Regions from separate parts of the Homo sapiens genome. Here region 2 is linked to region 1. Evidence: fine-mapped expression QTL. A gene starts in region 1. The other region holds a variant in brackets. All regions are shown on one strand. Distances are from middle to middle.

Region 1 (5,373 bases):
TGGCCCAACACTCACAGCTTCTATCTTCCCCACAAAGGGAAAGAAACAGGGAGGCACCTCCCATCCTCTAGGTGGACACAGCCCAGCCAGCAAATCAGGGTATCACGACCAGCTACAGAATTTATGGGACCCAGGAGAAAATGCAAATGTGCAGCTCTTTGTTCAGAAAGTATTAAGGATTTCAAGACAGTGACAGCAGGACTTTAAGCCGAGCCAGAGTCTTTCTGAGTGCAGGACTTTGTGCACGTGTCCTGCTGGCTCAATGTGAAGCCCCTGCCTGCCCTTCAAGCATGGTGGGGTGATGTTCCAGATCTATCATGGATGTGATTAGAGGTCTTGTCCCCTGGTCTGAAAGACATTCCACCCCTCAGGTTTACTACCCTCGTCTGCACTTCATTTTTGAGGTGCCGATGACACAAGGTAGGTAAGTGAGCCCCATGAAAGCTGCTACCAAGGGCTCAGAGGTTATGGGGCTTGGGGATAAAGGTGACCGTGAGGAACCTGAATCAAGACGGCTCCGGGACACGGTGGCAAAGGTGCCTTTCCAGGCTTCCAGGGGCTTGCATTCACAACCATCTCTGAGTTCTCAGCTAAGAATCCCTAATAGGGTACAAGCAAGAGTCCCAAGAGATCCCATGAACACCCAGGGAACAGAACTTAGAGGTGTCTGATCCAAGTCCCAGATCTTAGAGATGGGGAAGCCAATGCCAGAGAGTTGGTGACCCAGGCAAGGTCAAGCCCTCTGTATGGCCTGCAAGATGATGTGCCTGCAGGAGGGGTTCCCTGAACACTGGGAGTCATCAAAGCCTCCCCCTGTCAGAGCCACACTCTCTCCACATGGCCCCAGGAGAAGGCTGACTTCCCCACTGGACGAACCCCAAGACAAATTCAGGATGGTGCTGTCTAGGCCCTAGGGTAAGAGAGTTTCTAAGGACTGCAGGAGAGAAGGGAAGGCCCTCTGTGACCATGGCAGTGGGTGACTGGAGCCAGCCTGTGGAAGGCCCAAGGACGAGCTGATGTGAATTCACCCTGCCTTGGCATCCAGGGGGGCCCACAGGAAGGAAGGGAGCCCATCCCAGGGGAATTCTACCCCGAGTGGACTGTGCAGGTTCTGTCAGGCTCAGCTAAACCCACCCTTAGACTCCCTGGAGACCAGGATGCTTTCAAGGAATTTTAAACCCCTTGGATCCTGGTGGGGTCAACAGTGAGTATGAGCCCCCTTGGCCCCTGGGGAATGAGATAAACTTTCGGGGCTTTCTCTATCTCAGAAAAGAGGCTCAGAGAGACATCTCAGGTATCTAATCCCCCTGGTCAGTTCACTTCATTCAGAGGGAGGGCTCCTCCTTCCACAGGATCAAACTCAGGATTGAGTTTCTCTTGGGCCAGGCCCTCAGGGGGGATGTGGGTCACACCCCTGACCTGCAGAAGAGACCTGGGCTGGCAAGAGGCCCCAGCAAGAGCTAAAGGCTGTGCCAGGGCAGGCTCTGGGCTAACTGAGCGGGGCTGGGGTGGAGTGAGGTCCTCCTGGGAATGAGCAGATGTGGGCCTGGTCCGGGAGCCACGTTCCTCACCACAAAAGGCTGACTTACTCGGGAGTGTTGATCCAAATGATGTCCAGGTGGCAATAGTAGACACACTCCTTGTCCTTGTAGGTGAAGCACGTGCAGCGCCTGGATCGGTGGTGCTCAGGGGCCCCCTCGGCCGCCTGCTCCTGCCCAGGGCTTCCAGGGCTTGGACCCTGCAGTGCTGTCGGGGCCACAGTCCCCTCGCCAGGGCCAGCCACAGTCTCCTCGCCAGGGCCAGCCACAGTCTCTTCACAGTCCCCCTCAGATCTGGCTGCAGTGGGGGCCTGGGACACGCCGCGCCTGCCAGCATCCCCAGACTGGGAGCAAGGCACGAATCCTGCAGAAGGCAGATTGAGGGGCTCCTAAGCTGAGTGTGCAGACCCCTCAACACCCGCCACCCCCAAACACCTGAGGAGGGGGGTGGAGCAAGCAAAATGTCTGCAAAGTTTCCAAAGCTCTGCGCAGTTTCTGAAAAGTTTCCAAGCTATCTGCACACTCTGTGAAAAGCTTGCAAGCTATCTGCACCCGTTGAAAACTTGCATGCATTTTGCATACTTTCTGCAAACTTTGCCAGGGTTTGGCACAGCCTCTGAATAGTTCGCAAACTTTCTGAAAAGTCCCCAGTTTCATGAAAAATTGACCAAGTCGGCCCAGGCAGCAGGTCTCCAGCCAGTGCGCGGGCTGCAACTCCCGGAGCCCGTGCGGGTAGTCGTTGCGCGCCGCTTCTGCTCCCCAGCCCTCCCCCAGGCGTCTTCACGAGTGCAGAGCCCAGGCAAGAGTTTGCTCCCCGCGACGCACATCTTCTCCGCGCCTCGGGTCCCCCGCCCTGGGTCCTTTTGTGTGCGCTCGCGCCAGGAGAGGCGCGCCGCCCCGTGCGCTTACCTGCGGCGGAGGTCACTGTGAGCCCGAAAAGGAGCCACAGCCCCGGCTCCATGAACCTAGATCAGGCGCCGGAGCACCGGACCAGGAGGACGGCCGCTTGTGGCCGCGAAAGGGCACTGGGGCCGGGTACAGCTGGCCTCGCCCTCCAGCTGTGGGGGTTCGAGGCCGGCCGATCGCTCGCTGCGTCTCCAGCTCCGGCCAGGAGTTGGCTGCGGCGGTCATAAACTTTCAGAGCGCGCTGCCCATCCCTGCGCGGAGCTGGCCGGCTGTGGCTCGGGCTTTTCTGGCTTCTGCACCACCCCCGTCGCCTCCCCGCCCCCCAGAGGGGCTGGAACTGCCTCGCCGGGCCTTTGAACCCGGGCGCACTGGGGGTCGCCTCCCAGGCGCTGGGGGGAGCTGGCCAGGAGCGCAGCGGCCCGAGGCGCACCCAGGACAGCGAGGGGCGGGGGCGGCGTGGCGTGGCGCGGCTGGGTGGGGTGGGGTAGGGTGGGGTGGGGGCCGGGACAGCTGCCAGCTGCCGGAAGGCCACGAGAGCGCGCGCACACACGCACACGCGCGCTCACACTCACAGGCGCACCCCCGCCCGCCAGTTCGCCGCTCCGGAGTAGCAGCCCCCCATCCAAGAGCAAGAACAGATGAGAAAAGGCTGTGCTCAAGGGGTGTTATCTTTTCTATCAGGGGCTGAGGGAAAGACACATTTCTCATTGTTCCCCGAGTGACACCTTCCCCTTGAAGAGCCTGCTTGCCAAGGAACTCGGTGTACTTTACACTCTTGACTCACGCCTCGGGCTGGCTCCCTACCTCTCCCAGGAGTTCAGAGCCTGCGTGTGGGGCAGTGGCCTGGGAGCAAAGTCAACAAAGATCCTGGGTTAGCGGTCCTGTGGTGTCCAGGGCTTCCTCAGCCATCTGCACAGGTTGGGTGGCTTCAGGTGAGAGTCGGGCTCCTCTCCCTAAAGGCCAAGTTCATTCACACAACCGTCCCTACCAAGGGAAATGACCTCCCAAGAGAGCCCCCTACTTCCTTCATAGCCTTCCAAGTCCTGTGTGTGGGAGGCTGTCCCCATCTCCAGCTCAGATAAAAATGTCTGAGACTGGGAAGTCCTCCTGACTTCTCAGGGCACTTGTGGTCAAAGGACCCTCCTTTCATAACAGATGGGGTTGGGGGAGGGGCAGTGCTTCACATCTGTAATTCCAGCTCTTTGAGAGGCCAAGGTGGATGGATTGCTTGAGCCTGGGAGTTCAAGACCAGCCTGGGCAACATAGCGAGACCTCATCTCTAAAAAATGGGGTTGAATTGGGTCCTGCCCTCTACTAGCCTTAACGACCAGCTTCTGAAAACTAGAAAGCAGCTGAAGTGACCAGAGCAGTTTCTGAGGACAGTCCAAAAGAGTGCTACAACATCCCCCTGGCTTGATAGCTCAGGACACCTGTCCTCTGAACACAGCTGCTGTACCAGGAGGAAGCCCTAACAAGCCCACCTGGAGAGATCACCTGGAGAAACCTACGTGGAGAGAAACCGAGGCCTCCCAGCCGACCACCAGTGTCAGCCACTGACCTGAGTGAATGTGCCTTCCGATGATTTGAGCTCCCAGCCCTCAAGACTTCCAACTGAGGAATAGCTGTCCCGCTGTACCCTGTCCGAACTTCCCACCCACACAATCCATGAGCATAATAAATGGTTGTTTTACAGCACTAAACTCTGGGTAAATTGGTACAGAGCTGCAGTAACTAGAGTAGCACTCAAGCTTCCAGCACTGAAGCTGATGCTGAAGTTCTCCATCCCCCCACTCCCATCCCATCCTGCCTAGCCCTTGAATCCAAGTGTTTATTTGTTTGTTTTTGCACTTGATGCTTTGAAAATAAGAAAAACCCAAGACTCACAATATCTTCTGTTCCTGCTGGGCTAGAATTTGGATCATTTTAGTATTATCTTTGTTTGTTGGGGCTACTATAACAAAACGCCATAAGCTGGGTGGCTGATAAACCGCAGAGTTTTATTTTTCACATTTTTGGGGTCTGGAAAACCAAGATCAAGGTGCTGGTAGATTCGGTGTTTAATAAGGGCTCGATTTCTGATCATGGATGGTGACTTCTCACTGCATCCTCAGTTGTGGAAGGGTCAAGGCAGCTCTCTGGGGGTCTCTTTTCTAAGGACACCAACCCCATTCATGAGGGCTGCAACCCTCATGACTTAATCACCCCTCAAGGGCCCCACCTCCTGACATCATCACCTTCATGGATAGGATTTCAACAGATAAATCTGGAGAGGACAAATATTCAGACCATAATAATTACTATCTCTTTGGAATTAAAATTTCCATCTTCAACAAAATAAAAAGTTCTTGGATTGGGGGATGGCTGGAGGAATAGAAAATATACTAATCAGCTAAAAGGAGAAAAGGAGTAGGAGGAGGTTTCCGGGTACCATGTTCAGACACAGGAGGTATCATGGCTGCTTAGACCACTCTCTGGGTCTATGGCCTTCAGTAGCTTGAAGCCGACCACCACTTGTCTTCACTGGGACTAAAAATCAACAAACCCTGGATGAGCCTCTCAGGCACCAGGAGGTGCTAGCCAAATACCAGGATGGAGCTGGCCCTGCCCTCTGGGTCTTCTACTCTAGTTGAGGTAAGGAAGTTCAGAAATAGATCGCCAAGGATCCAGGATGCTGAGAACATAAAACGCCGCACAGAGCTAAGAGAAGAAGACAGTGTGTTCAGCTGGATGATCAGAGGAGGCAGCATTGTCCTTGGTCCCTAAAGCAAGCCGGGCGCCATGATTTGAGGCAGCAGCCTGCAGTGACACTCGCCAACACCAGCTCTCAAGCGAAAGAGCTCCCTTTCCTACTGTTCTTCTGGCTTCTGACGATGGCCAGGGCAATGACTCGATGTGTCTTTAACAGCTCTCGAACAGAGAGAGAGCTGTA
Region 2 (5,373 bases), 60 kb after region 1:
ATCCAGTTAAAATATTTCAATCACTTAAAACCTTAGGTATGTGCTGAATTCAAAAGAAAAGATTCCATTAAGAGGGAAAGTAAATAAGACAACGGGAAAGAATAGAGGTCTCCCTCATCCCCTGCCCTGCCTTGCCCTGGAGTTAAATACAGGTTTATTGCTAATAATTAAGAAGCTCTATTCTATGTACTTGTTGTAGTATACACGTAGCTGAAGATAAAACAAAATAGGACAGAATTACACAATGATTGGTATTGTGGTAAATGCCACAGAGGAGATGGGTTATGAATCATCCCATCTCCACACCACCAGGGCGCTTCATCTGCTTTGAGAGTCTGAGGTGACCAGCCTGAGGAATCGCTAAAATGCCACCTCACAAAACCATCTAAGGAGGGTTGACTTGGTGATGAAGCCTCAGCCCTGGTTCCTCAGAGAGATGTGGCTGAAGGACTCATCGAAAGAGCAGAAAAATACATTTATCAAAATCTAGCAACCCATACCAGGGTACTTCTCTTTCCTAGTGCAATTTTTTGAAAGTTTGTCTCTTCTAAAGTAATCATACATTTTATTTCAGAAATTACTTTTCTTAGTGGTACTCATTTCTCTTATTTCTTTGATAAAAGGTAATCAATTTAAGATTTCCCATTTAGAGATTTGTTTTTCTTTTTCCAAACAATATTTAGCGGAAAGTCATATTTAAAATCAATCGTTAATATTTGTGCCTAGACCACAAGTGTGTATCTAAAATTTAGACAGCAAAAGGATATATGAGGAGAAAAAATATAATTAGTGAAAATACCTTCTGAAATATATGATGCCAAAATTGAAATCAAGAGTATCTACTGTTTGAATGATTATTTTCAATGTTTCTCAATACTGGATGAGTTCATAAACAACAGCCCATTTCTTGAAATATAATTAAGGTATTGGAGAGAGCTCATTTTTCCTCAAGATTTGCATCCTTAAAAAGGAGAAATTGATCCATTTCAATAATAATAGCTGGGAAGAAAGATCTCCCCTTCTCTCCTTCATTAATCCTGAGGGGGGAAAAATGGGCTCTTGTCAAACTAGAAACAGAAACAAGAAAGAAAATATTAGAGTTGGCGTCATCAATTTTGGTTTTCTAATCACCTTAGGAAAGAAAACATTCTAAGTCCAGCCTTTGTGAAGCAACAAATATTGAAGGAGCATTTAGGGCTTCGCTCAAACCAAGACTTCAGACGAGTAAAACTTAATTCGACAAGAAAACCAGCAAAAGACGATGGGGGAATATTGTTCTGTTTTCATAACGTGTTTAGATATTCCATCTCGTGGAGTACTTAGGCGATTGTACTTTTCTTTCTTCTCTTTCAGTTCTCTTATTTTTTGTGGCGTAGAGGAAAGTGAAGCATTTGGAAAGCAGAAAACTTCCTTTCACCCAGATATTTCTTCTAAACAATACTAAAGGAACAGTCAATTTGAATATTTCAGTAATATAAAATCCTATTCAGGTACCAAATTCAACAGCATTTCTTCAATACTGTTTAAGACAAGAGGACTGAGATAAAGAGGAAAGAAATAAACATTGCCCAAAATACTCTTTAAAAACTTTCACATACAGAAATTTACTCAAGAATCTACGCTTTCTGGCTTATTTTACAAGTGTCATTTTCTTATAAACGTTTCTTACAAAAGTTTTCTTATATATGTTTCTTATAAACGTATAAAAGTTTGTAATAAAAGCAGCTCAACCGGGTGGACTGTGGGGTCACCGAAATACTTTCAACTTGGCTTCTTTTCTCAAGATTTCCACCTCAAAAGAGAGAGTACTTCGGGAACTGCAACCCTTAGCAATGCAGCTCAAGTGGCATTTTTTTTTTTCAGCAAAAGCCTCTCAATGGTTTCTGTGGGTTCTGATTAAAAAAAAATAGAGGGGGCCGGTTATGAGTTCTTTTAGACCAAAGCAAGGAATAAAATATCAAGACTTAGCTCTGCTCTGCTATGAAGAGATCATGGAGACTTGAACCTCAAGGTCGCATGTAACTTGGAAGCTGAGACGTGGGGTAGCAAAGAGGAATGGAGGAATAATAGGAAGAGAGGGGCCAAATTCTTACAGAATTCTAAGAAGTCTCTCCTTTGTCCTCACACCAGCTGTAGAAATTATTTTACAATATAAAACTTTAATTATAGGACTTTTTTTTCTTTTTTACCTCAGAAACTATCTCCTAGACGCACAGTAGCATCTCTATCTTCCTGTAAATTTCTTCAGTCTGGTTAAAATGCATTAAAAATTTACAAGCTCAGTTACACACAAACCCAAAAGCTTACCTGAAAATACAGGTAGGACGACAAAAGCAACATTTAGGAAAGAGAGGGAATAAAAAGGAAGAGTATTTCCCTAGAAATATTTTTATTTATTTATTTATTTATTTATTTTTTGAGACGGAGGCTCGCTCTGTCGCCCAGGCTGGAGTGCAGTGGCGCCATCTTGGCTCACTGCAAGCTCCGCCTCCCGGGTTCACGCCATTCTCCTGCCTCAGCCTCCGGAGTAGCTGGGACTACAGGCGCCCGCCACCACGCCCGGCTAATTTTTTTGTATTTTTAGTAGAGACGGGGTTTCACCGTGTTAGCCAGGATGGTCTCCATCTCCTGACCTCGTGATCCGCCCGCCTCAGCCTCCCAAAGTGCTGGGATTACAGGAGTGAGCCACCGCGCCCGGCCCCTAGAAATAATTTTCAAACCAACCAAATCAATCAGTAAATCTCATTTCTAGATGTTTTTAAAAGAGCAGCAATTGATGTATTATTAGAACTGCCTAGAAAGTCCATTTTTGAGGTGTAGAAAAAGCCTTTACATCTTTCCTGAAGGATTCTATTCTACCACTCACAAAAGGAGTCTCTTTGGCAATTCTAAAGCAATAGAGGAAAGGACATCTATGATCTGACAGAAAATGGGAGGTAGCCTTTAACCCTTGTCCGAAGAAGAGTGTAAACAATGTCAAGCATCCAGAAAATTCCAACTGCAGAAGGGGTGGAGAATGCCG[C/G]AGGAGGGGAATCTTGTGGCAGGCACACAATTCCGCACAGAGGATAGACAGCAGCTGGGGGACTGTGGGGGTAGGTGGGGGTGGGGGTGAGAAGAACAGAATAAAAAATACACAAACCTTCCCCAAGGGGAGAGAAGGTAATCTTTAGAGTCTTCCACGCTTCCACTTCCCTGAATCCTCCCCTGGGGGTGGTCTTAGGCAGGGGTGGGGGCTGGAGGAACCAGTTCACCATAGCACAGGGCTGTCTACCTGGGTATTTTCTTGAGTGAGACAAAACTGGAGAAGTAAGACTGTGCTGCCCCAGAATCTTCTCTCAATAGAAGTCACAAGGTCTGCTTAAAATGCTTACAGATGGCCGGGTGCGGTGGCTCACGCCTGTAATCCCAGCACTCTGGGAGGCCAAGGTGGGCGGATCGCCTGAGGTCAGGAGTTCAAGACCAGCCTGGCCAACATGGTGAAACGCTGTCTCTACGAAAAATACAAAAACTAGCCAGGCGTGGTGGCGCGCGCCTGTAATCCCAGCTACTCGGGAGGCTGAGGCAGGAGAATCGCTTGAACCCAGGAGGAAGAGGTTGCAGTGAGCCAAGGTCACTATACTCCAGCCTGGGCGACAGAGCGAGACTCTATCTCAAAAAAAAAAAAAAAAAAGTGTTTACAGAAAGAAAGAATAACTAAATCAAGGATGTAAAATGAAAGTCACATAAAAGATGAAAGAAGGGGGGAAACTTGAACCGTAAGCAGTTGTCATCAAAAATGTATTCGAGAAATCTTCTTGGCTTATCTTTTAAAATATGTTATGACTAAATTCAAATCACAAAAGAATACACAGCTTAAATGATAATGCAGTAAACTAACATAATGGTTTTGAAATCAAGTAGTTTACACTGTTTCTATGAACACTGACAGAAAAATAATGAGAAAATTGCATGAACATCCAACAAAACCTGAGGGCTGGAAGCGCTGGGAATGGGTTTGGTTTGGTTTTCTCACTCAGGCCATCATAAAAATTTATTAAAGAAAAAAAAAGTCAATGTGGAGAAAGGGGAAGAAAAATGGGAAGTGGGCCTGTACCCCAAAGGATGCTGGGTGAGGGGAACAAAAGAAAAATAATTGTCATATCTACATGCTTTCTATCACTTCATGGAGTCTTCAACTTCTCTATGCAAAAGCAACCTTCAAAACTTCTATTTGGGGGAATGTATTCATCCATTTTACCTCCAATATTCCAATATTTCTCTCATAGAGAGGAAAACACAGCTACCATTTTCCTTGCTGAACCTCTTCCGGCCCTGCGTCTGCTGTGTGTGACTGTCAAGTATGCTTCGTGATTATGAAACTTATCTCAGGGAAAGAAATCCATACCCAGGCTCTAATAGATACAAGGGGGAGAGGACGAGAGGAGATGAAATAGCATGAGGTGGATAATAAAATTTAAAATAGTTTTAGCATAGAAATGTACCCTGTATATAAGATCTCATCTTGGTGCTCATTATAGCTTCTGGGTGTATTTTCTAAGCCAGAAGGGTGCAGCTTTGATGCTGTCTCCCTCACGAATCTCAAAGAGAAAAGAAAGTTAAGCCTTCTTCTTCCATGTATTAGCTTTGAAAACAAAGAAAGCAAATGTGGCCTTTCCTTTGTGGCAAAGTCAAGGTTGGACAATCTAGGCGACTGGCTGCTCCTCTCCTCTGGTCAGGGTGTTTGGCTAAAGTGCCCCAGGTCTTGAAAAGGCCAGGCCTTACCTAAGCCAAGCAACCCCAGGCAGAGGGGTGGGCAGAGACCACATGAGAAGTAGAGAGGAAGAGAGAGAGAAATCGAGATGCACTGATTCCAGAGGAAACTGGGGGGTCAGGACACTTGGTGGATGGGAACCAGCTTCCCAGCTCTTCAGAGGTAACCAGTTTAGTGTTTGAAAAACAGAAGGCCCAGAAATCAACCCAGCTGTGAGAAAGGCCCCAGGCCGACTGAGCAGGGATGAACAGGAATGCCCAAACTGATCAGGATTAAGAAGAAAAAATCAGATTTGGGAAATTTTCAAGCAGATGAAGTCCCCCAGAGAGGAATATGCCAGAAAGGACGAGGGTCCGAGGTCTCTACCGCTTTGCCTTAGGGAAGGGTTGGCAGATAAAATATGGATGACTGGTTCCATATGAGTTTCAGGTGAACAACAAATCATTTTTAGCATAAATATGTCTTATGCAATGTTCAGGACATACTTATGCTAAAAAAAAATTACGTATTCTGGGAGTTCTGTATTTTTATTTGCAAAATCTGGCCATCCAACTTTAGGGAGGTGGAAGAGGAAGCAGGGCAGGGGCTGGCCGAGCTTAGACGAATCAGTCTGAAGACGTCAG

Alleles and levels. Alleles are on the strand shown, and positions count from the first base shown. SD is a standard deviation of normalised expression in the study named.
For the expression in tibial nerve of the gene that starts at base 2,701 in region 1, allele G in region 2 goes with a higher level than allele C (large effect, 1.2 SD a copy in GTEx).

The links. PIP is the estimated chance that this variant, and not a neighbour inherited with it, causes the effect.
Region 2: its variant is fine-mapped to the expression of EDN3 in tibial nerve (GTEx, PIP above 0.99).

What each region holds. Positions count from the first base shown.
Region 1 is chr20:59,297,939-59,303,311 of GRCh38, reverse strand. EDN3 (endothelin 3) reads right to left here and starts at 2,701. Exons shown (of 5, transcript NM_207034.3): 1 at 2,448-2,701; 2 at 1,590-1,902. The coding sequence starts at 2,499.
Region 2 is chr20:59,237,847-59,243,219 of GRCh38, reverse strand. All of the region lies in intron 4 of ZNF831 (zinc finger protein 831), which reads right to left. Among named protein-coding and RNA genes, the nearest start is that of EDN3, 60 kb to the left of the region's middle. The variant C/G (reference allele first, on the strand shown) is at 3,023.